Linked DNA regions of Homo sapiens: regions 1 and 3 are each linked to region 2. Evidence: fine-mapped expression QTL. A gene starts in region 2. Each other region holds a variant in brackets. All regions are shown on one strand. Distances are between the middles of the regions.

Region 1 (10,404 bases), 24 kb after region 2:
TCAACTGAGCCTCCTGCCTCGGTCTCCCCAGGCTGGAACTGCAGGCGTGGCTCGTCTAACTTTACCGAAGGCTCGCATCCCAGTGCTGCAAACCTAGACTCGTACCCTGACAATCCCCAAGGGAGGTTTCAGAGGCACAGGCAGCAAGTCCCTCAACCCCTCAGGCTCACTTCTGGCTTGTGGGGGAAAAGACCAAAATCAGCCATCTAGAGCCAAATACAGTCTCTAACTTATTATGGCTCAATGCAGGATTTTTTCACTTTAGCATGGGGTTACCAGCAGGCAACCTCACAGAAAGTCAAGGAGATTTTGTATTTAAGAAATGAAAGCTGAGAATAGTGGCTCACGCCTCTAATCCAAGTACTCTGGAAGGCCAACATGTGAGGATCACTTGAGGCCAGGAGTTCGAGACAAACCTGGATAACACAGCAAGACCCATATCTAAAAAAATAATAATAATAAATTAAGTATTTCAATACTAATAGGACAACTGGCCAAAATTTATTGAAGGCTTTAAAACACTGTCTCGGGCTCAGTGTGTGCATGTCCTAATTTATTTAATTATCAGAAATTCTGCGAGGTGGGCATGCACAGAGAAACCTAAGCCCTGGCCACATGGCAAGTAGGCAGATGGCAGTGGTGGGGTCCCCCTCGACCCCGGCCCTGCCTCTGAACAAGCAGCATTTTCCTCCCAAGTCACACTGTCCTTCCTTTTTTATTTTTTTGAGACAGAGTCTCACTCTGTCACCCAGGCTGGAGTGCCGTAGCGCGATCTCGGCTCACTGCAGGCTCTGCCTCCCAGGTTCAAGCAACTCTCCTGCCTCAGCCTCCCAAGTAGCTGGGACTACAGGCGTGCACCACCATGCCCGGCTAATTTTTGTATTTTTAGTAGAAATGGGGTTTCACTATGTTGGCCAGGCTGGTCTCTAACTTCTGACCTCATGATCCACCCACCTCGGCCTCCCAAAGTGCTGGGATTACAGGCCTGAGTCACCGCGCCGGCCCGTCCTTTGTCTTGACGCTGTGAACACTCGACCAAGTGCTGCGTCTTATCTTTGGGCCGCATCTTGAACCCCGTCTTGCTTCCACTGCAGTTTACGGCGATGACTTCTGCCAACGCACCGGCTGCTGTGGGGCAGATTTGCTTTCGGGCTCTCACTTGTAACAGTCACTTCCCGCGGCCCCCCTGCACCCATCACTAACCAGGAAACGTTATCGGGGTCCTCCCGACCTGCACATCTCAACACCCCTGAGGCCCCACCCGGCATCGTGCCAGTGTCCACAGGGAACTGCCTGGGGACTTCACTCCTCTCCAGGCCAAGGGCATCATGTGCAAGAGCTTTAGCTAAGTGGCAGGCTTCCCATTCTGCACCTTCTGCCCCCACCTAGGGGGCAAAGACGCCCCCCGAGTGAAATAAGGTAATGAAGGCACGCTCCTCCTAGAGCCTCCTGAGGGGCCACCACAGGCAATGCCTTTCCCACACGAGGTCCCCAAAGCAGAGCCCGTGGCTGACAGTGTCCCAGCGCCACCCCTGCTGCCACTCCTTCCCCCCACCACACACCAAGAGCACACACACGCACGCGGGGTTCTTCTGGGCCGATGCTTCCTGGGAGATCACCAACCCCTACAGTCCCTCTGTAAAGGAGGAGCTTCCGAATTCTGGGACACTGGGCTCAGCTCCTTCTTTTAGAATGACCAGAGACAGGCTCATCCTCTGCCTATACCAAGTCCTTCCGGATGAGACTGCTGAAGCTGGACTCAGTCCTTGCAGAACGTGGCAAGTACTTCCCAGGTCTGGAACCCAGGAGGTCACAGTGGGCTGACATGAAGGGGCTGAGCTTACACCAATCAAGGGAGTGTGAGGATGTGCGTCACTCTCTGCTTTTCTTTCTCTTACTGAATATACAAGAACTTAAAAATAAACAGTGCTAACTGAAGAGTAATTGTCAAAAACAGGATGTCAGGCTAAGCTTCATGGCACAGAGTTTAATGTGAATCATGAGATGAGACAAAAGCCTCCTCCAGGGCGATGGGAAGACCCAGCCCCAAACCAGACTCTTGAGCACGCAGCCCTAAACCAGACTCCGGGAAGGGGCTGCGTGGTCATGCACCGCCTAAGACTCAGAGGTGAAGATGGGAAGACCCAGCCCTAAACCAGACTCCTGGAAGGGGCTGCGTGGTCACGCATCGCCTAAGACTCAGAGGTGAAGATGGGAAGACCCAGCCCTAAACCAGACTCTTGGAATAGGCTCTGTGGCCACCCATCGCCGTAAGGCTCCGGGATGGAGACAGCATGGACAGGGACCTCGCACAAAGGCATGTCGGGAGGGCCTCCTTTCCAAGGCACAGCCCCACCTGCTCCTTCTCAGCCCACGACGGGAGCAGAGCCATGTCGAAGCCGTGCCCCACACAGGGTGGACAAGGACATGGCCTGACAGCTCCTCAGAAATCCTTAGAGATTTTTCCAAACGCAGGTTACCAGGGCTTCTGCAGAGAGAGGGGCAGCAGGACGTGCTGCTGACAGTCCCTGGGGACTTACACTGACTTGCAGTGAGAGCCCACATCTGCCACCAGGATGGCTCCCAGCACCACCGCGTCACAAGCACCACACTCTCCACCGTGGGACGCCCAGATGGCTCGGCAGGCAGGCCGGGCTGGGGAGCTGACAGCAGACGCCTGGGACTCTGCCCAGCGTCCTCACCCACAACCTTTTAACTGTAACTGGCAGAGGAGACAGCAGGGAGGGCAGAAGGTACAGTGATGGCTAGGATGCAGTTCTAGGTTTTGCCAGACATACTTTCAGGGGCCACTCCTGGCTACCTAATTAATCTACCTGTGTATAAGAATTTTTTAGCTTATTAAATATTCCAAGAGGCCAGGCATGGTGGCTCACGCCTGTAATCCCAACACTCTGAGAGGCCGAGGCAGCTGGATCACGAGGTCAAGAGTTCAAGACCAGTTTGGTCAAGATGGTGAAACCCCCGTCTCTACTAAAAATACAAAAATTAGCCAGGCATGACAGCGGATGCCTGTAATCCCAGCTATTCGGGAGGCTGAGGCAGAGAATCGCTTGAACTTGGGAGGGGGAGGTTGCAGTGAGCTGAGATCAAGCCGCTACACTCCACCTTGGGCAACAGGGTGAGACTCTGACTCCATCTCAAAAAAAAAAAAAAAAAAAAATACAAGAGTAGGGCTGAGCATGGTGGCTCACGCCTGTAATCCCAGCACTTTGGGAGGACGAGGAGGGTGGATCACCTGAAGTCAGGAGTTTAAGACCAGCCTGGCCAACATGGTGAAACCCTGTGACTACTAAAAATACAAAAATTAGCCAGGTGTGGTGGCGCGTGCCTGTAATCCCAGCTACCCAGGAGGCTGAAGCAGGAGAATCACTGGAACCCGGGAGGTGGATGTTGCAGTGAGTCTGCAGTGAGCCAAGATCTCGCCACTGCACTCCAGCCGGGGTGACACAGTGAGACTCTGCTGGGAAAGGGCGGGGATGGCAAGAGTGCCAATACATAGACAATGCTGGGCAAGGCCAGAGATGCTGGTCAAGGGCGGGGATGTCGGGAGAGGGCGGGGATGGCAACAGTGCCAACACGAAGATAAAAGGTTTAGCATTTGACACCTATTCTCTTTTCATTTGGAATACGTTTGGCCTGGCCTCCGTTCTGAAAACTACAAATCACTCACTATAACAAAATAAGATCCAGAAACTTTCCATTAGCGTGGGGGTGACCATGAAATGCCTGGTCAAAAACCCGGGCACTGATTGTCATAACCATTATGCAACTGGTGTTGCGTCCATCAGAATCTAGTTTAAGAATACTCTTCTCTCTATAGGAGTCTTCGCGGCAGACCTAGCCTGCTCTGTGTCCTCCTGAAATGAAGGAATGTTCTCTCCCATTATTTCTTCTAACAGCTTGGTTAGCAAGCTCCGCCCTCTTCTTTATCTGACCTTCTAACGACCTCACCAGATGTGTGAAGCAGCCCGGCTCCATGTGTATCAGGCACGCACGCACACACGCACGCACACCAACCTGCAAAGGAAATAACGGGGCAGCCCTGCAGTGTGAAAAGCAATGGGATTTTGTGGGTTCCACCTCCTCACCTAAGCATCCCTGGTCTACGCTATGTCACGACCCTCTGCTGAACCACGTCAGGGTGAACCCCACACCGTGTCTGTGCGCCTCACCACGCCTACTGCCATGGGTGGCACTGGAACTAACCCGTGGACGATCCGACGTGCACCAGGAATAGAAACCAAGCTCTCGCAAAGACAGAGGAGCCAGTGTGTGCACTGCACAGGGTGACACGCCTCCTGTGCCCGAGCCACACGTAACACCTTCCAGGGAGGACCACACGGGGGGTTTTTAAAGGGCAACCCGCTGGGATACAGTTCTTTGTCTTTCCTAAGAAGATCATTGTACATCTGGTCATATGTGGTTTTGAAATCATAAACATTGGGCTTGTCGGGAGCTGGTCCTGGAAGCTTCACGTGAGTCCCTGTTCCAAAGGATCGGACGCTGAATCCCCGTTTGCTGAAAGACAAAAGGAGAGAAAGAATCACAGTCACACTAAGACACAAAATTCCAAAAGCAAGGGACAGCAAATGGGATAGAAACAAAATGAGTAATTTCATTGGCTCATAGTAGAGAATATGTCTTCAAATTTTTAATCTAGGCCGGGCATGGTGGCTCGCGCCTGTAATCCCAGCACTTTGGGAGGCCAAGGCAGGCGGATCATGAAGGCAGGCGGATCATGAAGGCAGGCGGATCATGAAGGCAGGAGATCAAGACCATCCTGGCTAACACGGTGAAAACCCGTCTCTACTAAAAATACAAAAAATTAGCCGGGCGCGGTGGCGGGCACCTGTAGTCCCAGCTACTCGGGAGGCTGAGGCAGGAGAATGGCGTGAACCCGGGAGGCGGAGCTTGCAGTGAGCAGAGATAGCACCACTGCACTCCAGCCTGGGCGACAGGCTGTAGCAAGTTACACAAAAGCAATCAAACCAGAACTGACCATCACAAAGCCACATCTGAACATCATAGCTTGTTTAAGGCTTTACTTTAAACTGAAAGGACTGACTGATGTGGACTTGGGGAAGATTTCATCAGAACATTTTGGCCATCGACCAACGTCCTGGCTTTGGAGGATCCAAGTTCACAGGATTCCTAAGGGACTC[A/G]CAAAGGTCCAACTGCCCGCTCCACCACAGGAAACTCTGTCTCCCCCAGTTTCCCAACACCCCCACGATGTGGCTCCATGGGAACCGAGACCCAACACCCAAAGGAGTCCCACAGGCTCAGGGTTGCTGCAGGCAGAGAACAGATGCCGCGATGGGTCCGACGGTGCTTGTTCCTTGGACTTCCTAGTCACAGGTGAGGAAACTGACCAAATACTTTTCCTAATCAACTGGAGAAAAGAGCTGAACAGGAAACGTGTGTCATGTGCCACCAATGAGCTCTAGTTCACGCAAGGAGAAAGAGAGGTCGTCTCCAAACACTGATGGAGTGTGGTAAGACCAGAAAATTCTTCTGTCATCGCTGACAAGCACACTTAAGTTTGTCACAACAAGTTACATGTAAAAAAGTTACTTTGGCACCGAGTGCGGTGGCTCACACCTTCAATCCAGGCACTTTGGGAGGCCGAGACAAATGGATCACCTGAGGCTGGGAGTTTCAGACTAGCCTGGCCAGGAGGCGAAACCCCAGCTCCGTTTCTACTAAAAAAAAAAAAAAAATTAGCTGGGCATGGTGGTGCGTGCCTGTAATCCCAGCTACTTGGGAGGCTGAAGCATGAGAATCGCTTGAACCCAGCAGGCACAAGTTGCAGACATTGGAGATCTCACCACTGCACTCCAGCCTGGGCAAAAGAGCGAGACTCTGTCCCAAAAAAACAACAAAAAAAGTTACTTTGGTATAGAACATGTGTTCTTGTAAAGTCACAACTGATACTTATAATTACCTAAAAAATATAGACTTCTCAACCTAGCTTTATTTATAAATCACAAAAGGTTTGCATCTGAAGGAATCTGCCTGGCTCAGGGCGCAGGGCGCACATACACTTCCATTAACACTAAACTCCTCTTACAGGCCTGTCATTCTTGTTCAGAAAAGTGCTGCTGCTTCGCTCTTGAGCAAGAATGACACACAGACACGTGAGGAGTTCCATATTATTTTAAAAAAAGAAAAGTAAGGCCGGGTGCGGTGGCTCACGCCTGTAGTTCCAGCAATTTGGGAGGCCGAGGTGGGCAGATCATGAGGTCAGGAGATCAAGACCAGCCTGGCTAACATGGTGAAACCCCATCTCTACTAAAAATACAAAAAATTAGGCGGGCGAGGCGGCGGGCGCTTTTATAGTCCCAGCTACTCGGGAGGCTGAGGCAGGAGAATGACTTGAATCCGGGAGGCAGAGGTTGCAGTGAGCTGAGATCGCGCCACTGCACTCCAGCCTGGGCGACAAGAGCGAGACCCTGTCTCAAAAAAAAAAAAAAATTACTGAATGTTGAATGAGTAACAGTGTCACAAGAGAGGAAAAACTCAGGCAGAGGGGGCTGCTGGAGTGTAACCAGTCTCTATGCGGATAATGGGGCAACACCCAGCAAGTGAAAACTACCTGTGCCTTTCTCACAGACACTGGCTTCTAGAAACCCGCCCTACGGACATACACGTGCCTCTGCAACATGGCTGCCTGCAGGATGCCCACTGCCGGCCTTCCACAGCCACAAAAGAACAGACAAGTAGAATAATCCATCCATGGGGCAGGACAGGCCATGCGGCTCCACGCGCACCTCCGAAGATGAGTAGAGGAAGCAAAAGAGCCCAAGGGCACCCTGCTGCGCCACCACACACGTCACCCACACACACAGAGAAGATGTGCTCATCTAGTGTACGTGAAACACCTGAGTCCCCTGAGGCTGATGACAGCTGCGTCAGTCCTTACATCCCTAGATATTCCGAGCTACACAACCCGGCTCTCCAAACATCTACCACACACGGCCAGAAATGTGGCACAATAGCAGCGATTCATGACTACAAACCCGTGTTCACGGCACCCGGACTGTGAAATAAACGTGAAAATGCTAAAATTAAAATTCCTGACATTCAGTCATAACCACAGATCCTGACGGAAACATGAGGTTAAAGCAATAAAGTCAACTGTTGGTTGTGACTGAGAGGGTGACGGAGGCCCAGACACAAGGCATACCACAGGGAGCACACGTGAGAAACAACAAGCCTAAAATGACTTCCTTACCAATTCAGACAACATACAATAAAATATGTTCCGTCAAAGCACAAACAAGGGCCGGACGCGGTGGCTCACTTGAGGTCAGGAGTTCGACAACAGCCTGGCCAACATGGTGAAACCCTATCTCTACTAAAAATACAAAAATTAGTCATGGTGGCACACGCCTGTAATCCCAGCTATTCGGGAGGCTGAGGCAGGAGAATTGCGTGAACCCCGGAAGCGGAGGTTGCAGTGAGCCGAGATCGCGCCATTGCACTCCAGCCTGGGAAACAGAGCGATACTCTGTTTCAAAAAAAAAAAAAAAAATCGCACAAAGAAGCCCAGGATCAGCGTGATCACAGCAGCCAAAGGAGACAGCCTGCCTCCCAACACCAACAAGAACTCACCACCTGCTGGACGTTCCTTTAAGTTAGCCTATTTAAAAACAAAATGCAGTTTGTTTTTCCCCCAACAAAAGGTTCACGAATGGCAAAAAGGCTATTTAGCAACAGAAGCAGTATTTCTCCCAAACTGATGCAACCGACAGGGCAGCCAGCTTGCGACTCAACAGCGTTTCTTACATAAAAGCAAGGACAGCTTGGAAAACACTCCTGACACCAACAGGCTTCGCCTGAAGGGCCAACGCCTTTGTAAACTAATCTTCCAGACAAGTATTTGTCTGGTATGCCAAACAACTGTCTTTACAAGTACCAAAAATCTATCAGAGGGCTTGTAATCCCAGCACTTTGGGAGACCAAGCAGGTGGATCACTTCAGCTCAGGAGTTTGAGACCAGCCTGGCCAACATGACAAAACCCCGTCTCTACTTTAAAAAAAAAATAAAAAAATAAAAAAAGCCAGGCGTGGTGGTGCGCGCCTGTAATCCCAGTTACTCCGGAGGCTGAGGCTGGAGAATCGCTTGAACCCGGGAGGTGGAGGTCGCAGTGGGCCCCGTGATGGTGCCACTGCACTCCCGCCTGGGTGACAAAGTGAGACTCTGTCTCAAAAAAACTCCAAAAAACTATCATAAAGAAGCCATCAGGCGGGGCATGGTGGCTCACGCCTGTAATCCCAACACTTTGGGAGGCGGAGGAGGACGGATCACTTGAGGTCGGGAGTTTGAGACTAGCCTGACCAACATGGAGAAACCCCGTCTCTACTAAAAATACAAAACTAGCCAGGCGTGGTGGCTCATGCCTGTAATCCCAGCTACTTGGGAGGCCAGGAGTTCAATACCAGCCTGGGCAACACAGTAAGACCCTGTCTGTAAAAATAAATAAATAAATAAGGCCAGGCACGGTGGCTCACGCCTGTAATCCCAGCACTTTGGGAAGCCAAGGCAGGCAGATCACCTGAGGTCAGGAGGTTGAGACCAGCCTGGCCAACATGGTGAAACCCCGTCTCTACTAAAAATACAAAAAAATTAGCTGGACATGGTGGTGCATGTCTGTAGTCCCAGCTACGCAGGAGGCTGAGGCAGGAGAATCGCTTGAACTCGGGAGGCAGAGGCTGCAGTGAGCCGAGATCTTGCCACTGCACTCCAGCCTGGGCGACAGAATGAGACTCCGTCTCAAAAAATAAAATAAAAGAAAAAAACAAAAAAACAAAAACAAAAAGCCACAAAACAAACAAACAAAAAACCTAACTGGTTCCAAGGGGACACTTTAATCCTTGGAGCACCAAGCGCAGGAGGCTCTGTGGAAACGTACGGCGGAGTCTTCTGGCGCTGCCCTGAAACATGAGGACTCCCAGGACTCTGGTATTTGAAACAATTTAGTCTCTAACACCAAAGATGATCACCCCAGAGAACGCTAACATGTCGACACTTACTATCACTTGGATTTATCAGGAAAATAGAGTCCACGCTGATTTTCAATAGGGTGAAATTGTTACTGTGTCTGTTTTTAGAGACAGAGACTTGGTTTGTCGTCCAGCCAGGAGTTCAGTGGCGCAGTCACAGCTCACAGTCATAGCTCACCACAGCCTCAACCTCTTGGGCTCAAGTGATCTTGCTGCCCCGTCTCCCAAGCAGCCAGAATGACAGGCATGTGCAACCACATGTGGCTAAGTTTTAAAATGTTTTGTAATGATAGCGGGTCTCACTGTGTTGCCCAGGGCTCAAACTCCTGGGCTCAAGCAATCCTCCTCCCTCAGCCTCCCAAAGTGCTGGACTATAGGCCGAAGAGCCACCTTGCCAGGCCCAAAATTTTTAAAAGGGGCGAGGTTCACTGATCAGCTAGCTACTGTGCCTGCTCAGTTAACTACAATTCCTTCTGACAATTTTATTTCAGCTTTCCTGTGCAGTTTTATGTAGCCCTACCCAACTGCATACAATTTTCCTGCTTTTTTCACTTACCATAAGCATTTCCTACGCTTTTCACATCATTTTTAACGCCTAAAAGACTCTCTAAATCTGACTTTCACAAGCTTTCCCAGTGTAACAGAAAAGCACTATCACACAGAGTTTCTGAGTATTAAAACTCTCTAAATAAACCCAAATCAATAGACAAAGGACATAAACAGGTAATTTTCAAAAGCAAAAATGCTCTGGGTGCGGTGCCTCACACCTGTAATCCAAATGCTTTGGGGCGCTGAGGCAGGAGGATCGTTTTAGCCCAGATATTCAAGGGTGAAGTGGTGAGCTATGATCACGCCACTGCACTCCAGCCTTACTCTGGCTTGAAAAAAAAAACAAAAAAAAAAGGGAAAATGACAACAGACATAAATTCCAACTTCAATAAGGCCAAGCTAGAAAACCGAGACATGGAAGAACACCCTGCCGACCAGAGGCCAGGAGAAGTGGAGTGAAATTTCCTAAGAGTCTGAAGGATTTCCTGCCCGTTACCCCCGAGACCCCAGTCATGACATGGAGGAAGAGCCACATGCAAGATGGACACAAGCCACAAGCTGTGCTGTGAACCTGGGCACTCAGCGCCAATGCCACCAGTCTGTGAGTCTCTGCAGGGACCCCCCCCACCCCAAAATCGGACTGCCAAATTCTCCCGTTTGACTGGGGTATTATAGAAAATTATTTGTATGAATAATGAAAATAAGCCATCTCGTGGCAAAAAAAGGAAACTAATGATGTGAATACTAACTATGGAGCAGACAACAGAACAAGAGCTTATCCCCGATGCATGCGTGAACACATGGAGACAGACGGACACCAAAATGGTACCT
Region 2 (10,404 bases):
CCCACATCTCCGCCGAGCTCCAGCTGCCTGTGTCTCCACGTGGGATCCGCAGACACCTTAAACTTGTGCCTAAAAATAGCTCCTCTCTCCCCAGACCTGCTTCTCCCCCACCTTCCCCTCGGTGACGTAGCAGCGCCTCAGCCTGGTTTTCAGCCGAGACCCAGAGACCACCCCACCCTCCACACCCCAACCAGAAGTACTTCCCACACTGAAAGCCCAGCCTGTCCGTCCAACCCAGGGTCTTGCAGCCCTCTCCAGGCCATCCCTGTGCCCAGCGGGGACCACACAGGTGCCTTCCCTCAGTGAGATCTGGGGGGTCCTGGGGCCCGAGCCCAGGAACAGGGAGGAGGTGTCCCCTGCCCCACGCTCCCCTTGAAGCCCTCCTGCTCTTCTGGGGTTCCCGGAGGTCAGTCCCCTCAGCATATCCGGAAAGTGGCCGCTTTCAGTGGCAGGGCTCTCGGTGAGGAGTGACCATGACCGTGGCTGATTCCTGGTGGCCACCGATCACCTGGTGACGAGCCTGTCCACAGCCATCGTCCATCGTCACCAATGGGCAGCTGCTGACCACTGCCCAGAATGTGCAGCTGCCAGAGGCCCTCAGGGGAGGAAGCTGTTCCTGACCCCTTAGAGAGTCCTCACCCACCCCAGGGGCTCAGTAACTTTGGGGGTCAGAGGTCACAGCCTGTGTCCCCCACCATGGCTGGCCTGGGTACCTGTAGCTCCTCTCCCTGCACCTGGCCCTCCTTCCTGGAGGGCTCAGGTCTCCCAAGTGAAAGCAGGAGATAGGCCTGGGCAGAGATATGCTATCTGCACACGTATGTCTGTGACATGTACATACGTGTGTCCTGCCTGCACCACACACACCAGGTGTGTCCACCTGAGGCCCAGTGTACATCACGTATACACACCAGCCACATGCACGGGACATGGCGTGATACTGTGGACATGGGCCCCGGGAGCGCCACACCCCCGCCCTGTGCACGGTGTGTCACGCGAGTGCATGTTCGCTTGGCTTTGCAAAACGCAGCCACCCTCTCCACGGGGCGCCACGTCACGTGCATGGACGGATGTCTAGTTTGGACGCTGCCTGCCAACAGACTTTGGAGCATTGATTTCCATACACGTTCTCCACGTCAACGTCTACGTATAGGCACGTATGAGGCCTACACATGTACACACACTCGTTCTGAACACCAGCGTGTACACACAGGGAGCCTCTCATGGCAGTGCACGGGCATGGTGGATACGCAGATACCGCATGTGCAAGACTGCTGTCTGCACACACACTGGCTGCAGCTACACGGAGACATCTTGACATGTCCCTGAGCACACGGCACTGTATATTGTGACATACATGTACTTTGCATACACATATATGTTGTCAATATACAAGGGCACTCTGTACGCTGAACGTACATATCCTGTATGTAGAGATGTGAACAGAGCATAGATACATGGACACACACGCAGCAATACCGTCTACAGCAGGCTGTGGCTCTGCTTCCCACACACGGCTGCCTTCAGCGTGCACCCACCCGAGTCCACGCGTGCTCTGGACACGGCATGAGCCGCCCTACATGCCCTGTGCAAATACTCTAAGGCGCCTCTGCCTGCCCCGCGGAGCCCTCAGTGTGCTGCCACAGGCGGATGCACACGGCCCCAGCCCACGTGCGTGGAGGCCGCACCTTTCTGATGCTCTGGAGCTCGGGTCTGGGCCCAGCCTCCGGGAGGCAGTGGAGCCGACCTCAGGCCTTTGCTCAGCAGTCGGACCTGCCAGCCAGGGACACGGGGCTCTCTGGTAGCATGTGGCCACCCCACAAGCTCTTACCCCCTACCCTGTGCCCAGCACACGTGAGGGTCACAGACACCCCGATCTCTGCCTTCTCTAACACCCGTGTTCTTCATCGACACGCCTGCTGCACCCATAGGCATGTCACACGCTTAGCAACACATGCAGCTGTCCTGAACACACATGCCCCACACCCACACGTATGCACAGAGACCCCCGGAGCAGGAGGCAGCAGAGATGACGAACACGGGTTCTGGGCTGGTGCCCCCTTTGTCCTTCACTAGCTGTGTGACCTTGGAAAAGCCTGTCCTCTAAATCCTCCGTCCACTTCCTCATCTGTTCAGCAGGGTTAACAGCGGCCACTGCGTGAGGGTGTCCTGAGGGGTGGAAGTGCATGCGTGCGTGCGCGGGGGCTGTGTGTACGCACATGTATATGCACAGACGCCACACACATGCGCGTCTCATGAGAAGATGTTTATTTCGTACATGGACGTACAAACATGCATGGCCAAGAGGATCCCATCGCTACACGTGCACAGAGGGGGTCACACGGTGGGTGCGGGGGGTCTGGGCGCTCCCCTCAATCTGAATGACCTTGAGGAAGCTCCACCTCCCCGCTGCCCCCCCAGCCCATCCCTCAGCTCCTCTCCAGCCCGGGGGTGGTGCCCAGTGCCCCTCAAGGCAGGCCCTTCCCGCCTTGACCTGCATTCCCCTGCCCAGGGACTCAGTGCAGGGCCCAGCCCTGTGCCAGCAGGCGCTTCCTGCCCCAGCCCTGATGAGGCTGGCTTGGGTCTCCACTGTGGACATCACACTGGGCTGCGGCTTTCCGGCCTCCAGGCTGGACCAGGAGGCCCCGTGACCCATTCCGCCATCACCCTGGAGGCCTCTAGGAACGGCGTCCTAAAGCCATGCGCCCCCAGGAGACCCCCGCCCACCTTGAGACAGCTCCTCCCCCTGCGCACCTGGCAGCCCTCAAGGGTGGAAGGCGGCTCGCGGCCTGCGTGGGGCTGGTTCCCCCGCGCCCCGAGTGGGCCCCGCCACACATGTGCGCTCACGCGTGTCGAGCCGGCGCCGGTTGTGGACTCACCGGCCACAGTTGCAGTGGCAGACGCGGTCCTCGCCCCGCAGGTGCGGGAGGATGTAGTTGTGGAATCGGTCCAGCAGCGCGTTCATGTCCATCAAGCACGCGATGGCCTGGAAGAGCTCATGACCGGTCAGCGCCAAGGAGCGGGCGGGACGAAGCGGGGCTGGGGGTGGGGAGCGCAGGCCGGGGTCGGGGCAGCGCAAGCGGGGAGCGAGAGCGCAGGCCGGGGTGAGGGGAGCGTAGGCCTTGGTAGGGGGAGCGCAGCGGGTATGGGGATCGCAGGCTGGGGAGGGGAGCGCAGGCCGGGGTGGGGGGAGCGCAGGCCCGGGAGGGGACCGCGGGCCGGGGAGGGGGAAGCGCAGGCCGGGGTGGGGGGAGCGTAGGCCGGAGAGAGGAGCGTAGGGAGTGTGGGGATCGCAGGTTGGGGAGGGGAGCGGAGGCCGGGGTGGGGGAGCGCAGGCCGGGGAGGGGAGCGCAGGCCGGGGAGGGGAGCGCAGGCCGGGGAGGGGAGCGCAGGCCGCACGGGCGGTAAACAAGGCGCGGGAGGTGGGCCAGGCGGCGCGCGCGGGCGGGGAGCAGGGGGCGCGCGCGGGAAGCCCCTCCGCTCACCATCACGACCGACGCCCCCAGAATCATGAAGATCATGGTGTTCGCGCTCATGGACATCGGGCGGGGCCGGGCCGGGCCGGAGCGCCGCCCCCCGGCCCCGGCGCCCCCCCGGCCCCGGCCCGATGCTGAGCCCCCGCCGCCTCCGCAGAGGTCAGCGCTTCCCTGGATCGTCCGCCGCCGCTCGCTGCAACCCCGGCACCGGCCGGGGGGAGGAGGCGCGGGGGGGGGGGCGCCGGGGAGGGACGCGGGGCCTTTCTGGGGTCTCTCGGCCCGGCCCGCCGCGCTCCGCTCCGCCCTCGGGTCCTCCCTGCGATGCGCTCGGCTCGGCTCGACTCGGCTCCGCTCGGCTCCGGCCCCCTCCCTGCCTCCTCCTCCCTCCTCCCCCCTCCCTCCCCGCCGCCTTCCTCCGCCTCTCGGGAGGGACCGCGCAGACCGCAGGCCGCCCCGTGCCAGCGCCGGGAGGAGACCGCCATCCCCCGGACGCCGGCCGGGACCCCTCCCCGGGAGCCTCGGCTTCGCGTCCCGCCCCAGTCTGGTCAGACCCAGCCCCGGTGGCCTGTCCGGTGACCCTGGACGCCAGTCCTCCGGTCCTGGAGGGGCGCCGAGGCCCTTCCCGCCCCACTGCTCCGCCCTACGTCCTGGACTCCCAGGTCGCCGGGTGCGGGACTGCCCCAGTCCGCTCGGCACGCACGTGCCTCCAGGGTGGGGTCCGCAAGGTCGCGACAGCCCCACGGCCGTGGGGGCCACAGGTCAGGGACGGGATGACCCCTGGAATCCTCAACGGAGGGATGTGGCACAGGAGCCGAGGGCAGGGCCGCCCCGCACAGGCTTCCCTTAGGGCGGGGACGAGGGGGTCAGCCCAGGCCCATGGGTCGGGACGCCGGCCATTCAGAGGCCCAGTGGCCACCACTCCGCTGTGGCTGTCCCTGGCTCGGGGTCCTGAGGCCAAACTCTCATCCACGACCGGTGACCATGTCTCAGGCCCGGGAGCCGACCCCCGGCCTCAGCAGGAAGTCAGCGGGAAGCTATGCCTGGGACCCAGCCTGGGTCGTGGCGCCATCCAGGCTCACTGCAGCCTCCACTCCTGGGCTCAGGCGATCCTCCCGGCTCAGCCTCCCCCGTAGCTGGCCTTGGGGGATCCCCGCCCGGGGGGGTTCCACATGGAGAGGGGACGCCGCTCCACCACAGGCAGCAGTTGTGGCAGGAGCAGGCGGCTTCCGCTTCAGGCAGCACAGGCACGGGTAGGCCCAGACCCTGTCAGCACCACCAGGTCTGAGCTACTCCTCCCAAGCAGTGGTCGGAGGTCACTGAGGGCGGCAGGGCTAGGCCTCTGCCACCTCCTCAGGGGCGAGGGTCGGGCCAGGAATTCAGGACCAGGCACAATGACAGCAGCATCTGTTTATTGACAATTCCAGGTCATTCCTAACACGCCGCAGCAGGGCTCTGTACAGTCCGGCCCGGTGGGGAGGAGGGAGGGAAGGCAGGCACACGAAGACACAGGTATGTCGGGAAGTGCACACAAACCGTTGTCTTTCCTTTTTGGTTAAAGAAGAAAAACTTTGTAATCAATATCCTGCTCATAAGTAAAAGTGGAAAAGAAGAAACTTGATTGCTTTCATCTGGCGTTTTGGCATCTCCTCTCCCATTTCATATGCACAGTTTATTTGGGTAATGCTACCGTCACCAGCAGAACACCTGTAAGTAAAAACAAATGTCAGGAAGGAAAAAGTATGAACAACAGGAAGCTCCAGAGGCGGCTCCATGCGGGCGCTGGGCTCAGTAGAAGCAGACGGTGTGCAGAAAGGTGCGGCCACTCTTCTCCTCGAACTCCTGCAGCAGCTCGTCGATCTCGTTCTCCATGTCTTCCGTGTGCTGGATCTGCAAGGACAGGACCGTGGTGAGGGCCTTGCCCACTCCTGCCTGTCTGCTCCCCCTAACACCTGGATCGCCAGGGAAACGCCAGGCCTGAGCCAGCAGAAACCAGCGCAGCAGGCAGGCCCTCACCCCACCGCTGCTGCCTCACAAGGACGGCCGGAGGCTGCAGGGGGAGAGCGTCCCGGGCAGCCCCCACCTCCCCACCGACCCTCACAGGACCTGAAGCTGGGAGGAGCTGGGAGGAGCCTGGAGCTGGATTCTGAGAGGGGCCCAGCACGGAGACCTGGCGGCCAGGGCTCAGACCCACACATGCACAGCGGGGCCGACCAACCCTCACCGCCAGCGCTTCCACACCACCAACAAGCGAGCGGGGGCAGCCTGGTCATCGGAGCATCCTGGCCTCCATCCACCAGAGCCCCTGGCAGAGGGCCGCTGCCCCAGAGTGAGCAGGCCCGGCTCCTAGGCACACCTGCCCTGGCACCGGCAGCTCGTTACTCGCCATCTCCACTGTCCCCTGGTCCCCAGCCTTGGCCAGCACCCAGTGCCTCTAAGCAAGGAGCGGCCTGTCTGTGACTCAGCTCTGGCCAACGTGACCCAAGCAGAAATCGTGCAATAACTTCTGGGACGACATTTTCTTATGACCTTTTCTCCTGCCAGGCGATCATGAAGACCGTCCCTGGCGCTTCAGCAGCCACACTGGACCGTGAGGCACGTGGGGACCAGAAGCCATGCTGGGTGGGCCAGGCGGAGCGCAGGAGCCTCTGCGGCCACACAGCAGCTTCTCCCAGCGCCCGCCCGCCTGGCTCCCGGGCTTTCCAAACACACCATCTTCTTTCTTGGTGAAGCTGTTCTGTTTTTCTGTCTTTCACAGACATTCATCAAATCACAGAGGCAGAGGCAGAGGCAGAGGCGGGACGGTGCGTGGGGCTCTCCTCAGGCAGGTCCTTTCGTCACAGCCCAGCACCTCCACGCCGCAGCAGGGTGGCTACAGAAGCCTTGGGGTGCCCCGGCCCCTCTGTGCAAGGGAGACATGCAGGGCCCACTGGGGAAGGCAGGTGTGCAGAAGGCCAAGTCCAGGGGTGGACGGCGGACACAGAGCCCTTGGCAGCCTCCAGGCTCACGTGGGGCACACCTCCGACTGCACCGCATCCCGGAGAGCTGCATGCTCTGCTCACTGAGGTGGGGCTGTGTCCGCCACGGGGAAGAGACAAGGTACCAGGCGTTCCCTGGAGCCGTGTCCTGGGAGAGGGACTAAGCCTGTGTTGGGGAGGTCCCTGTGCAGCGTCTCTCAGCTGAGCAAAGGGCATTGCAGGGGGGCCTCCTGTGCCAAAGCTGTGGAGTGACTCACTGAACTACCAGCAGGCGCCCCCGACACAGGCGAGCTGAGCAGACCTTGCCCCAAGCAGCAGGGCCGGCCTCAGGTCTCGGCCACTCCCCTCTGTCACGGCCTCGGCCACTCCCCACTGTCACGGCCTCGGCCACTCCCCTCTGTCACGGCCTCGGCCACTCCCCACTGTCACGGCCTCGGCCACTCCCCACTGTCACGGCCTCGGCCACTCCCCTGTCACGGCCTCGGCCACTCCCCTCTGTCACGGCCTCGGCCACCCCCTCTGTCACGGCCTCGGCCACTCCCCTCTGTCACGGCCTCGGTCACTCCCCTCTGTCACAACCTCTGCCCAGCGCGGCGCCCAGCCGGGTACTTACACACTGGCAGAGCTCACAGATGAGAAACGCCCCCAGGGTGGCCTCCTCGTGGTTGTCCTGGATGTCCACATTGACCACGTGCACAGGCTGGCAGGTCTCCTGTTCTCTGGAATTCAGATCTGATTGGGACAAGGTGACACAGACGTCAGAGGCTCCAAAACCAGGGAACAGGCAGTCAATGTGGCTGAGTCCCCAGCTCTGCCGGCTGCAGGCCCAGCCCAGCCCCAGTGGTTTCTGGACTCTGCAGTTTGGGGAGCACAATGAATGAGCCTCAAACCGAAGGCGGCTGATGGTTCGAGGAAACCTGAGCAAATCTCCAACTCAGCACAAGCTGGTCTGGGACTCCCCACCCACCAGCCAGTCCTGGGGTGAACCGTGACTGGCATTGCGACCCTTCCCCGTCACTAAAGACCAGCCCTCCCTGCTCCACCGCCAGCTCCACACAGGGTCCATCCGCTTGAAAAATGGGCCTGGCGCGGTGGCTCTCGCCTGTGATCCCAGCACTTTGGGAGGCTGAGGCGGGCGGATCACTTGAGGACAGGAGTTCAAGACCAGCCTGGCCAACATGGTGAAACCCCGTCTCTACTAAAAATACAAAAATCAGCTGGGTGTGGTGGCACACGCCTGTAGTCCCAGCTACTCGGGAGGCTGAGGCAGGAGAATCACTTGAACCCGGGAGGCAGAGGTTGCAGTGAGCCTAGATTGTACCACTGCACTCCAGCCTGGCGACAGAGCACGACTCTGTCTCAAAAAACAAAACAAAAAAACACCAAGGAGAAAAGAGGCCCCTTGAAGCCCATGAGGCTGCAGCCAGCACATGGGTGGTTCAGCGACCAGCGGCCCTGCCTGCCTTCCAGGGTGCTTCACACTCAGGTCTGCTCCCCGGCCCCCGCCACTCTAGACGGGCTGTACTGGTCATGGTGGGGCCCTGCAGGCATCCCCAGACCCTGTGAGAGCTGCTGGAGCCCAGCCCAGCACGCAGCCGCCTCCTCACCTTCCACCACCTGGTCATACACTCTCTCTTCGCAAGTGAGGATCAGATCAAACAGGTCTTTGCAGTTCTGGAATCTTTCTGGCCGGGGCTTGATTCTCTTATTTCTGTCCAGCATATGTAAAATCCCATTCTGTGTATAGCTACACATGGGAGTTAAGGAACGTCAGAGAAAAGGCATCTGTGTATGAAGCCTGGAAGCGCCTGTGTCCTGGACACCCAGCCCCTTCCCTGCCCCACAGCAGAGGCAGCCGGGACGAAGGCCTGGACAGCGGAGTGGGCCATGCCCTGGTGAGGCAGGGGCCTCACTGTCCTAGGAGGTCCCACAGAAAACAAAGTGGGCGATGGCAGGTGCTTGCTCCTCGCTGTCCCCCAACTCGGCAAAAAGACCCAAGGCCCGCAGGACACCCCCCGCCCCCGCCCAGCATGACACCTTCTACCCAGACCTCTCCCCTCACTGCTGGCCCGGCCCAAGCTGCCCTTGGCCTCAGTCACTGTGTCTCCGCAGTCGGATCCTTCTTCCTCCCTCTGCTCCCTGTGCAGTGCATGCTGGCTCTGAAACCTCAGCCCTTCAGCAGAGACAAAGCAAACCCGGAAACCCAGTCCCCAGTCTAGCTCAGCTACAACAGAGTCAAGAACATCGGAAAACCCAAAGAAAGGAAGCTCCAGGCCGGGCGCAGTGGCTTATGCCTGTAATCCCAGCACTTTCGGAGGCCGAGGTGGGCGGATCACGAGGTCAGGAGACCGAGACCATCCTGGCTAACACGGTAAAACCCCGTCTCTACTAAAAATACAAAAATTAGACGGACATAGTGGCACATGCCTGCAATCCCAGCTAATCGGGAGGCTGAGGTTGCAGTGAGCCAAGATCATGCCACTGCACTCCAGCCTGGTCAACAGAGCAAGACTGTCTCAAAAAGAAAAAGAAAAAAAAACAGAAGGTTCAGCAGCAATCAGCCTGGAAAACGCTGATACAAAAACCAAGAGGGCAAGACAGTCGAGGAGGGAGATGCCACAGCCTCACTGACTATGGGATGGTGGAGGGCAGGATGAGGCCTGAAGGCACTTGGCGTCCAGCCCAGCTGAAAGGGGGCCTTGGGGTGAACGCTGACACACACCGGCCCCAGCAGTCCCAGGAAGGGGCCACAGGAGCCTCTGGGGTCCTCAGGGTGGGGCATCCTCCCACCATCCACAGTGGCCATGCCTGGCCTCAGGGGTTCCCAAGGAAGGGGCTCACTTCCCCAAAAAGAGAGACTGGGTTCCCAAAGATGAGCTCTGTGGTCTGCAGGAGCTCATTTGAGCCATTCCAGATGGTCAGGGACAAGTAACCACTTTCAGATAAACAGCCTAGCTGACAGGAATTCTAAGTGAACTCAGCTACCTTCCTGGGTAGCAAAAATAGTTTTTATAATAGTTTTATAATACATTGAAGTGGTTGATCTAACGGCATCTGACCCTGAGCTGCATCCTTGGGTCACTGTCAGCAGCGTGGAAGTCACACACCCACCCCTGACGTGTGTCTCCTCCTGCACATTGGAGTCCCGCCTGTGTCCCCGAGGCCCCTGGAAGCAGCTATGACACCCGGGTCCATCTCTGGGGAACTTAGTCCTTCAGCCGCTGAGAATCAAAGTCTGCGGAAAGAAGAGCTCGAGGCCGGGTGCGGCGGCTCACGCCTGTCATCCCAGCATTCTAGGAGGCCGGGCGTGGCGACTCACACCTGTCATCCCAGCACATCGAGAGGCCGAGGCGGGTGGATCACCTGAGGTCAGGTGTTTGAGACCAGCCTGGCCAAGATGGTGAAACCCCGTCTCTACTAAAAATACAAAAGTTAGCCAGGTGGGGCGGCACACACCTGTAATCTCAGCTACAGCTACTCAGGAGGCTGAGGCACGAGAGTTGCTTCAACCCGGGCGGCGGAGGTTGCAGTGAGCCGAGATCACACCACGGCACTTCGGCCTGGGCGACAGAGTAAAACTCCTTCTGGAAAACAACAACAACAACAAAAAAAAAAAAAAAAAAAAAAAAGGCCGGGCGCGGTGGCTCACACCTGTAATCCCAGCTACTCGGGAGGCTGAGGCAGGAGAAGCTTGAACCTGGGAGGCGGAGCTTGCAGTGAGCTGAGATCGTGACACTGCACTCCAGCCTGGGCAACAAGAGCAAGACACCGTCTCAAAAAGAAAAGAAAAAAAAGAGCTCAAGACGGCCTGACCTTGTTGTGTGCAGCCACATGCAGAGGGGCAGGTGCAGGGACCGGCTCACGGAGAGGAACCGGGGTCAGGGTGCAGGGGTCCAGTGGCAGCTTCATGGTGGGCACAGGGATCACCCTCCCTGCACATCCCTGAGCAAGACACA
Region 3 (10,404 bases), 78 kb before region 2:
GAAGTTCTGGGATTACAGTCATGAGCCCCCACGCCCAGTCAGGGTTTGTTTTTTTTTTTTGAGACAGTCTCACTCTGTCGCCCATGCTGGAGTGCAGCGGTGCCATTTCAGCTCGCTGCAACCTCTGCCTCCCAGGTTTAAGTGATTCTCGTGCCTCAGCCTCCCACGTAGCTGGGACCACAGGTGTGCCACCACGCCTGGCTAATTTTTGTATTTTTAGTAGAGACGGGGTCTCACCATGTTGGCCAGGATGGTCTCAAACTCCCAACCTCGTGTGATCTGCCTGCCTCAGCCTCCCAAAATCCAGGTTACATTCGTGAGTCACCGCCCCTGGCCCTGGTCAGGCTTTTGAGTCTAGATCCGTGAAAGTGTCGCCATGTCCCTGCTCCCTGCAGGAGGGAGGCCTGTGGGACTTTCTGCTGTGGCTGTTTACAAGGCTTTGCTCCTGGTGCCTAAGGCTGGAACCTTCTCTCTGCAGGAGAAGATAAGCGAGGACCTCAGGGCCACACTGAACGCCTTCCTGTACCGCACGGGCCAGCACAGCAACAAGTGAGGGAGCCCCTCGGGTCCTGGGCCCCCGGGCAGGGCTGTGCAGCCGTCACCCTTGGTTCCCACCGAGGGACCTGAGGGGCCCTGGCTCACAGTGCTGGGCAGCTGCCGTGGCCTCAACGTGCCCACCTTGGATGTCCCCTGGGAACGGCCCAGCTCAGGACAGCACGGGGTGTCACTGAGGAACATGCGGGGGCCTCCCGGGCAGAGCTGGGGTCAGTCCTGTCCTCACGGCCCTGTGCACCGCCGCCCCAGCTTGCAGGTCCCTCTGCCCCTAGGTTTCTGCGGTCCTGTGCCTGCAAGGGAGGTGGTCTCATCGTGTGAGGCTCTGCTGGGTCTCCCTTGGAGGGTGTGTGTGCCCTGGGGTGGGAGATGGAGACAAGTTTGCTCCCACGGGAAGTTGGACACCAGCAGGTCCTGTGTGTCGGGGCGGAACCTGGGACCTTGGTCCCCCGCCCGGATGCTGGCCAAGGGTGCACCCTCCAGGCTTGGGGCCCACCCGACTTTGTGTGGCCTCTGTGGGCTGCCGCCCAGATGTCCCCCATAGGGTGACCGCCCCATGGCCAGTCTCCCTAGTCCCTCCCAAGTCCCCTAATTTTGAGTTTTCTTGGTCTCCTGGGTCCCTCCAGCCCCAGTCACGTGTCACATGGAGGATCAAGTCCTGCTGGTCGGCCGTGGCTGACTCCTCAGGCACGTTGGGCTCCTGGGTCAGCTGCTGCCGGTAGACGCTCCCTGGAGCCCTGACTCGGGTCCTTCCCAGAGAGGCAAGGCTGGGGCCCTGCTGAGCCTCCAGTGAACCCGGGCCCCCGAGGTCCTGCTCCTGGCTCGCGTGGCAGTATTTTTTTTTTTTTTTTTTTGAGATGGAGTTTTTGCTTTTTCTGCCCAGGCTGAGGTGCAATGGCGTGATCTTGGCTCACTGCAACCTCCACCTCCTGGGTTCAAGCGATTCTCCTACCTCAGCCTCCCAAGTGGCTGGGATGACAGGCGTGCGCCACCACACCCGGCTGATTTTTTGTATTTTTTCTTTTTTAGTAGAGATGGGGTTTCACCATGTTAGTCAGCTGGTGTTGAACTCCAGACCTCAGGTGACCCACCCGCCTCGGCCTCCCAAAGTGCTGGGATTATAGGCGTGAGCCACTGCGTCTGGCCAGCGTGGCCACAATCTTGACATGGACTCTGGGTCCCGCATCCCTGCTCCCAGCACAGCGGGGCTCAGGTAGCAGGAGGGAGTGGTGTTCCCGGCACTGCCTATCAGGCTGGGCGACGGTCAGCGGGGAAGTACCACACGGGGCAAGAACAGAGGCCCAGGAAGCCGGGCAGGGGGACAGCTGGGCGTGGTGGGGCAGGCAGGCGGGTGACCATGGCTGTGGCTGCGTTCTCCCCATGTTTCCTGTGCTCACAAGCTGCCACTTTAGATTCTCCCAGAAAGTCTTCCTGAGGGGGCTGAGGAGCACCTGTTCCCCTGGGGACAGCTCGGCCGGCAGCCCCAGCGTTTCCTTCCCCATCCCCGCCCCGCAGATTCATGCTGATCCTGGCCAGCTGCCACCCCGAGCAGTTCGACTGGGCCATCAATGCCTGCATCGACGTGATGGTCCACTTCGACCTGCCAGGGCAGGAGGAGCGGGCGCGCCTGGTGAGAATGTATCTTAACGAGTATGTTCTTAAGCCGGCCACAGAAGGAAAGCGGTAAGTGTCCCGCCCCACCAGCCCCCGTCCAGGGGCCCTCGCTCAGGGTCCACCCCTGCTCCTGTTCTCCGGACACACCCAGCAGGCCCTGTCTCCAGGATGGGCACCACCTCCCTGCCCTGCGGTTTCGTGCAGGAGCCCTGTGGGCCCCAAGGGTCCCAGAGGCCGCATCCAGGGAGGTCCTGCCACCCTTTCCTCATCCCCACCTGAGAACAGCCTGGTGGCGTGTCTTCTGGTTTGGAGGCACAGTCCACTATCACTTACAAACCTTTAACATTTTTTTTTTTGAGGCGAAGTCTCGCTCTTGTCCCCCAGGCTGGAGTGCAGTGGCACGATCTCAGCTGACTGCAACCCCTGCCTCCTGGATTCACGCGATTCTCCTGCATCAGCCTCCTGAGTAGCTGGCATTATAGGTGCCCACGACCACGTCTGGCTACTTTTCGTATTTTTTGTGGAGATGCGGTTTCACCATGTTGGCCAGGCTGGTCTTGAACCCCTGACCTCAGGTGATCCGCCCGCTTCAGCCTCCCAAAGTGCAGGGATTACAGATGTGAGCCACTGTGCCCGGCCTCTTTTACGTTCCTCTTCACTACGCGGAGAGCTGTGAGGAAATCCTGTACCTGGCCACCCCCAGACCCTGGCAGTGAGGGGAGGTGACGTGGAGTGTTGCTCTGAGACCCCCATGTCGGAATTCGAAGGAGAGTCTCCTCATGAGACCCCCATGTAGGGACTGGAGGGAGAGGCTCCTCATGAGACCCCCATGTAGGGACTGGAGGGAGAGGCTCCTCATGAGACCCCCATGTAGGGATTGGAGGGAGAGGCTCCTCATGAGACCCCCATGTCGGGACTAGAGGGAGAGGCTCCTCATGGTCCACTGCTGGCTTCTGGCCTGGCCTCCCTGCAGCTGCCACACCCGGCCCTGGAGCCTCGTGGTGTGGGGCGCGGCTCTTGCTTCCTGCTGCACATGTGCCTTGAGGCTGTCAGGCTCCCTGTTGCTGGCGGTGGGTGCAGCAGGCACGGTGGGCAGAGCCCTCCAGGTGATGAGGGGCCCTGGCGCCTCACACTGGCTGCCTCGGGAACACTCCAGATGAGCAGAGGCTGCTCTACTTCTTGGCGTCCCCAGGGCCCCGGTTTCTGAGTCCTTCTGTGCACCTGACCCAAATCCCTGCTGTCGCCAGTGACGACAAAAGCTGCTCTGTTCCAAAGAGAGCCTGGTTCTCCCCTGCCGACCCCTCCACTGCCGCCTGCTCCATGCTAGACCAGCTTTCCGGGTCTCAGTTTCCCTATGCCCTCCCCTTCCCTGGGCTCCCCGACACCCATGGCTGCTCGTAGCTCTGGCACCATGACCTGGCTTCTGTGGCCTCCAGGCAGAAGCTTTTTTGCTAGAACTCAGGGCTCTGCCACTGCCAGTTTAACGGCCATGCGCCCTGTGGGTGCTGAGTGGACAGGGCTGGTGTTAGGAAGGGGTGCGGCCATCTCCAGGCCCCACAGCCGCCCCCTTCCTGCTCAGCCCAGGCCTGGCTTGCGTCAGGAAGGGGGCGGAACTTGGCTGTCACAGGTAGAGAGTCCCTCTCAAGGGGGCATCTGGCATGGGTGTCCGCCTGGCTGCCTGTCTTCCGGCCTCCACCTCGTGGTGTGGGAGCTGCTGCCTTGGCCGGCCCACTTGGGAACTCCTTCCCCAGGCGTCTGAAGCTGGCCCAGTTTGACTACGGGAGGAAGTGCTTAGAGATCGCTCGGCTGACAGAGGGCATGTCATGCCGGAAGATCGCACAGCTGGCCGTGTCCTGGCAGGTGAGTCAGGCTCGGGTGCACCCACCCAGATGGAAGCCCAGCTGCTGTGCAGATGCTTGGTTGCGCCAGGCCTGTCCCAGCACCGGTGTCACGTGGGAGCTTCTGTTGAGGGGTTTTCAGTGCACAGATGTGACACGGGGCCCCTGCCCCAGTTGGGCCACTCCACGCAGCAGCGTGCACCTGCTCCAGCAAGAAGGGTGGGGCCATGTCAGTGGCTGACGGTCACAGGTCAGGAAGCCAGTGCGGCCTCCTAGTAGCCCGGGCTCTGCCAGGTGGGGCGGGAGGCTTCTGATGCTCACCTTGGCAGACAGGCACCCCCCAGTGTGAATGGTCATCAGGACAGGCCCCTTGTGAGTTTGGTGGTGGGGGTGGAGGGACGTTGTGTTTCTTGGACCAAGTCCATTGGCTTGGTCCTGCTTGACGGGCCCAGACACATGGGTGGGAGTTGTGGCCTCTGATTGTCCCACAGCCAGTTGTTTCTCAGGGGCACCCCTCCTGCAGCTCCATGGCTGCCCCAGGGCCAAGGAGCTGGGACTCACAGGAGTGTGGGCACGGCCATCCAGAAAGCTTTGGTCTTTGGGGGTTGCTGGAAAAGCAAAACCAGGTCTGTGGGGCAGAAGGCACCCTGGCCATGCACAGGCATCGCTGCCTCTGGGGTCCACAGAGTCTGTGTGACAATCTGGTCACT[C/T]GATCTAGCAGCACATTATGTGTGACAGCTTAATGAAGTAGCCAACTACCTTGATTTGAACGTAGGAGCCGGGGTATGTAGGGAGCTGTATTAGTCAGTACAGGCTGGGTTATGCCGCTGTGACAAAGAACCCCAGATCTCAAACCCCGTCCTTCTGGGTCAGCTGAGGTCTCTGTTCCAGGCCATCCCCACTTGGGACCAGGTCTGTTTCCACAACTAAGAAAGCAGAGGCCGGGCATGGTGGTGGCTGATGCTTGTATTCCCAGCATTTGGGGAGGTCAAGTCAGCCAGATTATTTGAAACCAGGAGTTCAGGACCAGCCTGGAAAGCAAGTCAAGAACCCATCTCTACAAAAAATAAAAAAAATTAGCTAGACCTAGTGGTGCATACCTGTGATGCCAGCTGCTTGGGAGGCTGAGGTGGGAGGATCACTTGAGTCCAGGAGGCGGAGGCTGCAGTGAGCTGTGATTGTGCCACTGCACTCCAGCCTGGGTTACAGAGTGAGACCCTGTCTTAAAAAATAAGAATAATTTGGTCATGGCTTATGCCTGTAATCCCAGCATGCTGGGAGGCCAAGGAGAGAGAATCACTTGAGGCCAGGAGTTCGAGACCAGCCTGGCCAACATGTCGAACTCCACCTCTACTAAAAATACAAAAATTGGTCGGGCATGGTGGTGGTGCATGCCTGTATTCTCAGCTACTCGGGAGGCTGAGGCAGGAGAATCGCTTGAACCCAGGAGGTGGAGGTTGTGGTGAGCCGAGATCGTGCCACTGTACTTCAGCCTGAGCAACAGAGTGAGACTGTCTCAAAAAAAAAAAAAAAAAGAACAGGAGTGTGGTCGACTGCTGGGCCTGCCATAACCACTGGGGCGTGTGTGCCCACAGCTCTGAAGGCTACAGGCCCAAGGTCAGGGTGCCAGCTCGGTCCCTCCCTGTGGAGTGTTCTTTGCTGGGTCCTCATGTGGCAGAGAGAGCAACTCAGCTCTCTCTGGTGTCCCTTATAAGGACACTCATCCTGCACTGCTCACAGCGGTGGTGGTGAGCCAACACGCCCAGCACCAACTTTGTCCTTCAAGAGTTTTTTTCTTTTTGTGCCGGGCACGGTGGCTCACGCCTGTAATCCCAGCACTTTGGGAAGCTGAGGTGGGTGGATTGCCTGAGGTCAGGAGTTCAAGACCAGCCTGGCCAACATGGTGAAACCCCGTCTCTACTAAAAATACGAAACTTAGCTGGGCGTGGTGGTGTGTGACTGTAATCCCAGCTACTCAGGAGGCTGAGGCATGAGAATCACTTGAACCCTGGAGGCGGAGGTTCCAGTGAGCTGAGATGGTGCCATTGAACTCCAGTCTGGGCTATTCAGGATCCCTTGAGATTCCATATGAATTTTAGGAATGGTTTTCCTATTTTTGTAAAACATAATTGAGGTTTTCACAGGGATTGCATTTAGTCTCTATGTTGCTTTGATGTCTCTCAGCAATATTGTGTGGTTTTCTCTTTTTGTCTTTTTGAGACTGAGTCTCGCTCTGTCGCCCAGGCTGGAGTGCAGTGTTGCGATCTTAACTCACTGCAACCTCCGCCTCCCGGGTTAAAGTGATTCTCCTGACTCAGCCTCCTGAGTAGCTGGGATTACAGGCACGCGCCAACATGCCCGGCTAATTTTTGTATTTTTAGTAGAGACGGGGTTTCACCATGTTGGCCAGGCTGGTCTCGGTCTCCTGACATGAGGTGATCTGCCCGCCTCAGCCTCCCAAAGTGCTGGGATTCATTCAGGTGTGGGCCACGGAGCCCGGTCAGTTTTCACTGTGCAAGTCTTTCACCTTCTCGGTCAAGTGAATTTCAAAGTATTTTATTCTTTCGGATGCTATTGTAAATGGAAATGGTTTCATAATTTCCCTTTCAGATTATTCATTGTGGGCCAGGCGCGGTGGCTCATGCCTTTAATCCCAGCACTTTGGGAGGCTGAGGTGGGTGGATCACAAGGTCAGGAGATTGAGACCATCCTGGCTAACATGGTGAAACCCCATCTCTGCTAAAAATACAAAAAATTAGCCGGGCGTGGCGGCAGGTGCCTGTAGTCCCAGCTACTCGGGAGGCTGAGGCAGGAGAATGGGGTGAATCCTGGAGGCGGAGCTTGCAGTGAGCCGAGATCGTGCCACTGCACTCCAGCCTGGGCGACAGAGCAAGACTGTCTTTAAAAAAAAAAAAAAAAAAAAAAAAAGATTATTCATTGTTAGTATGTAGAATTGCAGCTGTTTTTGCTGTTGATTTTGTATCCTGTAACTTTGCTGATGTCACAGGGTTGTTTTTTCCAATATGGATTCTAGGATTTTCTACATATAAGATTATATCATCTGAGAACAGGTGATTTTACCTCTCCCTTTTCAGTTTGGATGACTTTTCTTTTTCTTGTCTAATGGCCCTGGCCACAACTTCCAGTGGTATGTGGAATAGAAGCAGTAAAGCATTCTTGCCTGGTTCCTTACTCAGAGGAAAAGCTGCCAGTTTTTCACCACTGAGTATGTCACCTGTGGGCTTGTGATATATGGTCTTCATTGTGTTTAGGGCGTGTCCTTCAATTCTTGGTTTGGTGAGTGTTTTTATCATAAAAGTGTGAGGTGGGTGGATCACCTGAGGTCGGCAGTTCGAGGCCAGCCTGACCAACATGGAGAAACCCCGACTCTACTAAAAATACAAAATTAGTTGGGCGTGGTGGTGCATACCCATAATCCCAGCTACTTGGGAAGCTGAGGCAGGAGAATCGCATGAATGCGGCAAGCAGAGGTTGCGGTGAGCCGAGATCCTGCCATTGCACCCCAGCCTGGGCAAGAAGAGCAAACTTCTGTCTCAAAAAAAAAAAAAAAAAAAAAATGGCTGGGCGCGGTGGCTCACGCCTGTAATCCCAGCATATTGGGAGGCTGAGGCGGGTGGGTCATGAGGTCAGGAGACTGAGACCATCCTGGCCTGGCTAACATGGTGAAACCCTGTCTCTACTAAAAAATATAAAAAATTAGCTGGGTGTGGTGGCGGGTGCCTGTAGTCCCAGCTACTCAGGTGGCTGAGGCAAGAGAATGGCGTGAACCCGGGAGGTGGAGGTTGCAGTGAGCCGAGATGCCTGGGTGACAGAAGGAGATGTCATCTCAAAAAAAAAAAAAAAAAAAAAATTGTATTTGGCCAAATGTTTTTCCTGCAACAGTTGAGAGGGTCATGTGGTTTCCTTCCTCCACTCTGCTAATATTGACTGATTTTTGTATGTTGAACATTTTGTATGTGGAACATTGATTGATTTTCATATGTTGAACTGTCCTTGCATTCCAGGAATAAATCCTGCTTGGTCAGGGTGTGGAATCCTTTTATTATACTCCTGAATTCGTTTTGCTGGCATTTTCTTGACGACTTTTCCAACGATGCTCATCAGGGATATTGGCATGTCATTTTTCTTGTGGTGTCTTTGGCTTTGATATGAGGGTAATGCTGGCCTCTTAGGATGAGTGAGGAAATGTTCTTCAATTTGTCCAAGAGTTTGAGGAGTGGTACTGATTCTTCTTAATGTTTTGTGAATTCACATGTGAAGACATCAGGTCCAGGTCTTGTCTTTCAACTTTTATAGTTTGAAGATTTTAGGTTCCCAGAAAAGTTGCAAGAGTAGCACAGAGACTTCCTGGGCCTGGGACCTTGCCACGTGGTGAACATCATGTGTCACTGTTGGACCCACCCGCGACCAGGTTTTGCCCCAGAATCCCACCCAGGAGGCCACGTGACATTTAGCTGTCACTTCTGGTGGGCTCCTGCCAGGTCCCGTGCTTCCTGGAGGGGTGGCTCCGTGAGCATCTGCTCACCCCCTTTCCTCTGCTGGGCCCTGGGTGAGGTGCAGCCACTCGGGTGGACCCTGAGGGTCCCTGCACCTGTTTGCCCTCTCTTGGGTGGGCTCAAGACCAAAAATGATGTTGAGCAGTCCTGGGCCCCTGAGCCACAGTGGCGGTCCGGCTCCGGTCAGTGTCTCCTGCGCTCCCGGGCCCCCGACCCACAGTGGTGGTCCGGCTCCGGTCAGTGTCTCCCCACACAGTGGCTCTTGGTGAGGGATGGGCGCTGGCAGAGGGGACGGGCACCACGTGGTCATCCCCATGGCAGGTTCTATCGTGGTGACGGTGTTGTGGGAGGATGGTGTGCTGCTGCCCCTGCACCCCGTGAGATGAATCCTGCCTCTGGGAGGCATAGCTGGGATGGGGCTAGGGACCCGCTCAGCTGTCCGGGAAGGGTCCCCTGCCCTGTGCTTCCTCCAGGCGTCCTGGTGCGCTCTTGAGCATGGCGCCCAGTGGGGGTCCCCACACCCTCACCCTGACCCATGGGTGCCTCCCCTTGGGGACTCCATGCCCTTTGCTGGCATTGGGATGGAGAGTGACCTGTCCATGGCAGAAGGGCTGGACCTGAGGCTGCCTGAAGCCACACCAAGGGCCACAGCCCCAGCAGCTCCAGCCTTCACATGCTAGATGCCAAGCCCTGTGCCCAGGAGGACAGGGAGGTGGGGGCAGAGGTGGCCTTGGTGCCACCAGCCACGTGCCTCAAGGTGGGCAGTGGCTGCCTCTGCCCTGGAGGCCTGTGAGGGTCAGGGTCTGAGGGTCTGAGGTGCACTATGACCCGGGGGCACTGCCTGACCACGGCTGAGACACGCAGAGGGTCTGCAGTTCCCACCTGCCTCTGGGAAGCTGCCCTGGGTCGGCCGTCAGTGAGGCTCCGCCTTGGGCTTTCTATTAGAAAGTCATTGAGCAACATTGGTGCTGAGGACGCAGGCAGGGCTGTGGGCACTGCAGGGGCTGCCCCCGGTGTCCACACACGTGCTGGGCTCTGCCGAGGTGCGGGTAGCCTGTGTTTCACGCTCAGGCCATCCTGGAGCCCCTGGTTTGGTCCCTCCCCACCTCAGGGCCCTGGCGTGCATTTGGGGTGGGGGGTTCCCATGGCGGCCTCCCTCAGCTCCCTCTCTCCCCACTAGGCCACGGCGTATGCCTCCAAGGACGGGGTCCTGACCGAGGCCATGATGGACGCCTGCGTGCAAGACTTTGTCCAGCAGCACCAGCAGATGATGCGCTGGCTGAAGGGGGAGAGGCCTGGGCCCGAGGACGAGCAACCCTCATCCTGAGTCCATGGGGAGACCACACCTCACGGAGCCTGGCCGCGGACCCCTCCCACCCCTGCCTTTGCGGCCCCGCACATTTAGGAAATACTCCCCGTAATAAAGTCCCACGGGGGCCGCACCGCTGTGTCTATTGGCTGACACGGGGCGGGGTTTGGGGCCCCCTAACGTCCCCCTGGGGTCAAAGGTGACAGAAAAGGCAGAAGCTGGGGCTTTCTGGAGGATTTAACCACAGAGGGGTGGGCTTCACAGGAGGTGGCTGCCACGGCGGGGCCGGGTGCCCGTGCCCCATCCTGAGGCCGTGCATACGCGGGTGCCCCTTCGCCTCCCTCCCCTCCGCCAGAGCTGCCTGTGGCCAGACACACGGTGGAGGGAAGTGCACGCGAAACAGACACAGCGGCTTCAAATAGATGCCGCCCCTGCCCGCGCTTTGCAGCTAGTCCCTGCAAACCTTGATGATGGGGCTGGGCGCGGTGGCTCACGCCTGGAATCTCAGCGAGGCCAAGGAGAGTGGATCACCTGAGGTCGGGAGTTCCAGACCAGCCTGGCCAACATGGTGAAA

Alleles and levels. Positions count from the first base shown, and alleles are read on the strand shown. Sizes are in standard deviations (SD) of each study's normalised expression. Not every link is listed here.
For the expression in cerebral cortex of the gene that starts at base 3,817 in region 2, C is the low allele of the variant in region 3 and T is the other (large effect, 0.89 SD a copy in GTEx).

What was found. PIP is the estimated chance that this variant, and not a neighbour inherited with it, causes the effect.
Region 1: its variant is fine-mapped to the expression of TMEM240 in whole blood (INTERVAL, PIP 0.98).
Region 3: its variant is fine-mapped to the expression of TMEM240 in cerebral cortex (GTEx, PIP above 0.99).

The regions. Positions count from the first base shown.
Region 1 is chr1:1,560,378-1,570,781 of GRCh38, forward strand. It overlaps SSU72 (SSU72 homolog, RNA polymerase II CTD phosphatase), which reads right to left. Exons shown (of 5, transcript NM_014188.3): 2 at 4,396-4,539. Among named protein-coding and RNA genes, the nearest start is that of SSU72, 9.3 kb to the right of the region's middle. RefSeq lists an enhancer at 10,108-10,404. The variant A/G (reference allele first, on the strand shown) is at 5,184.
Region 2 is chr1:1,536,808-1,547,211 of GRCh38, forward strand. TMEM240 (transmembrane protein 240) reads right to left here and starts at 3,817. Exons shown (of 4, transcript NM_001114748.2): 1 at 3,483-3,817; 2 at 2,877-2,983. The coding sequence starts at 3,539. It overlaps SSU72 (SSU72 homolog, RNA polymerase II CTD phosphatase), which reads right to left. Exons shown (of 5, transcript NM_014188.3): 3 at 8,056-8,195; 4 at 7,062-7,180; 5 at 4,866-5,360. The coding sequence ends at 5,259. RefSeq lists a silencer at 2,402-2,696.
Region 3 is chr1:1,458,683-1,469,086 of GRCh38, forward strand. ATAD3C (ATPase family AAA domain containing 3C) reads left to right here. Exons shown (of 12, transcript NM_001039211.3): 9 at 479-549; 10 at 2,068-2,235; 11 at 3,918-4,026; 12 at 9,702-10,404. The coding sequence ends at 9,848. Among named protein-coding and RNA genes, the nearest start is that of ATAD3B, 7.9 kb to the right of the region's middle. RefSeq lists enhancers at 2,944-3,718, 3,804-3,883, 3,904-3,963. The variant C/T (reference allele first, on the strand shown) is at 4,715.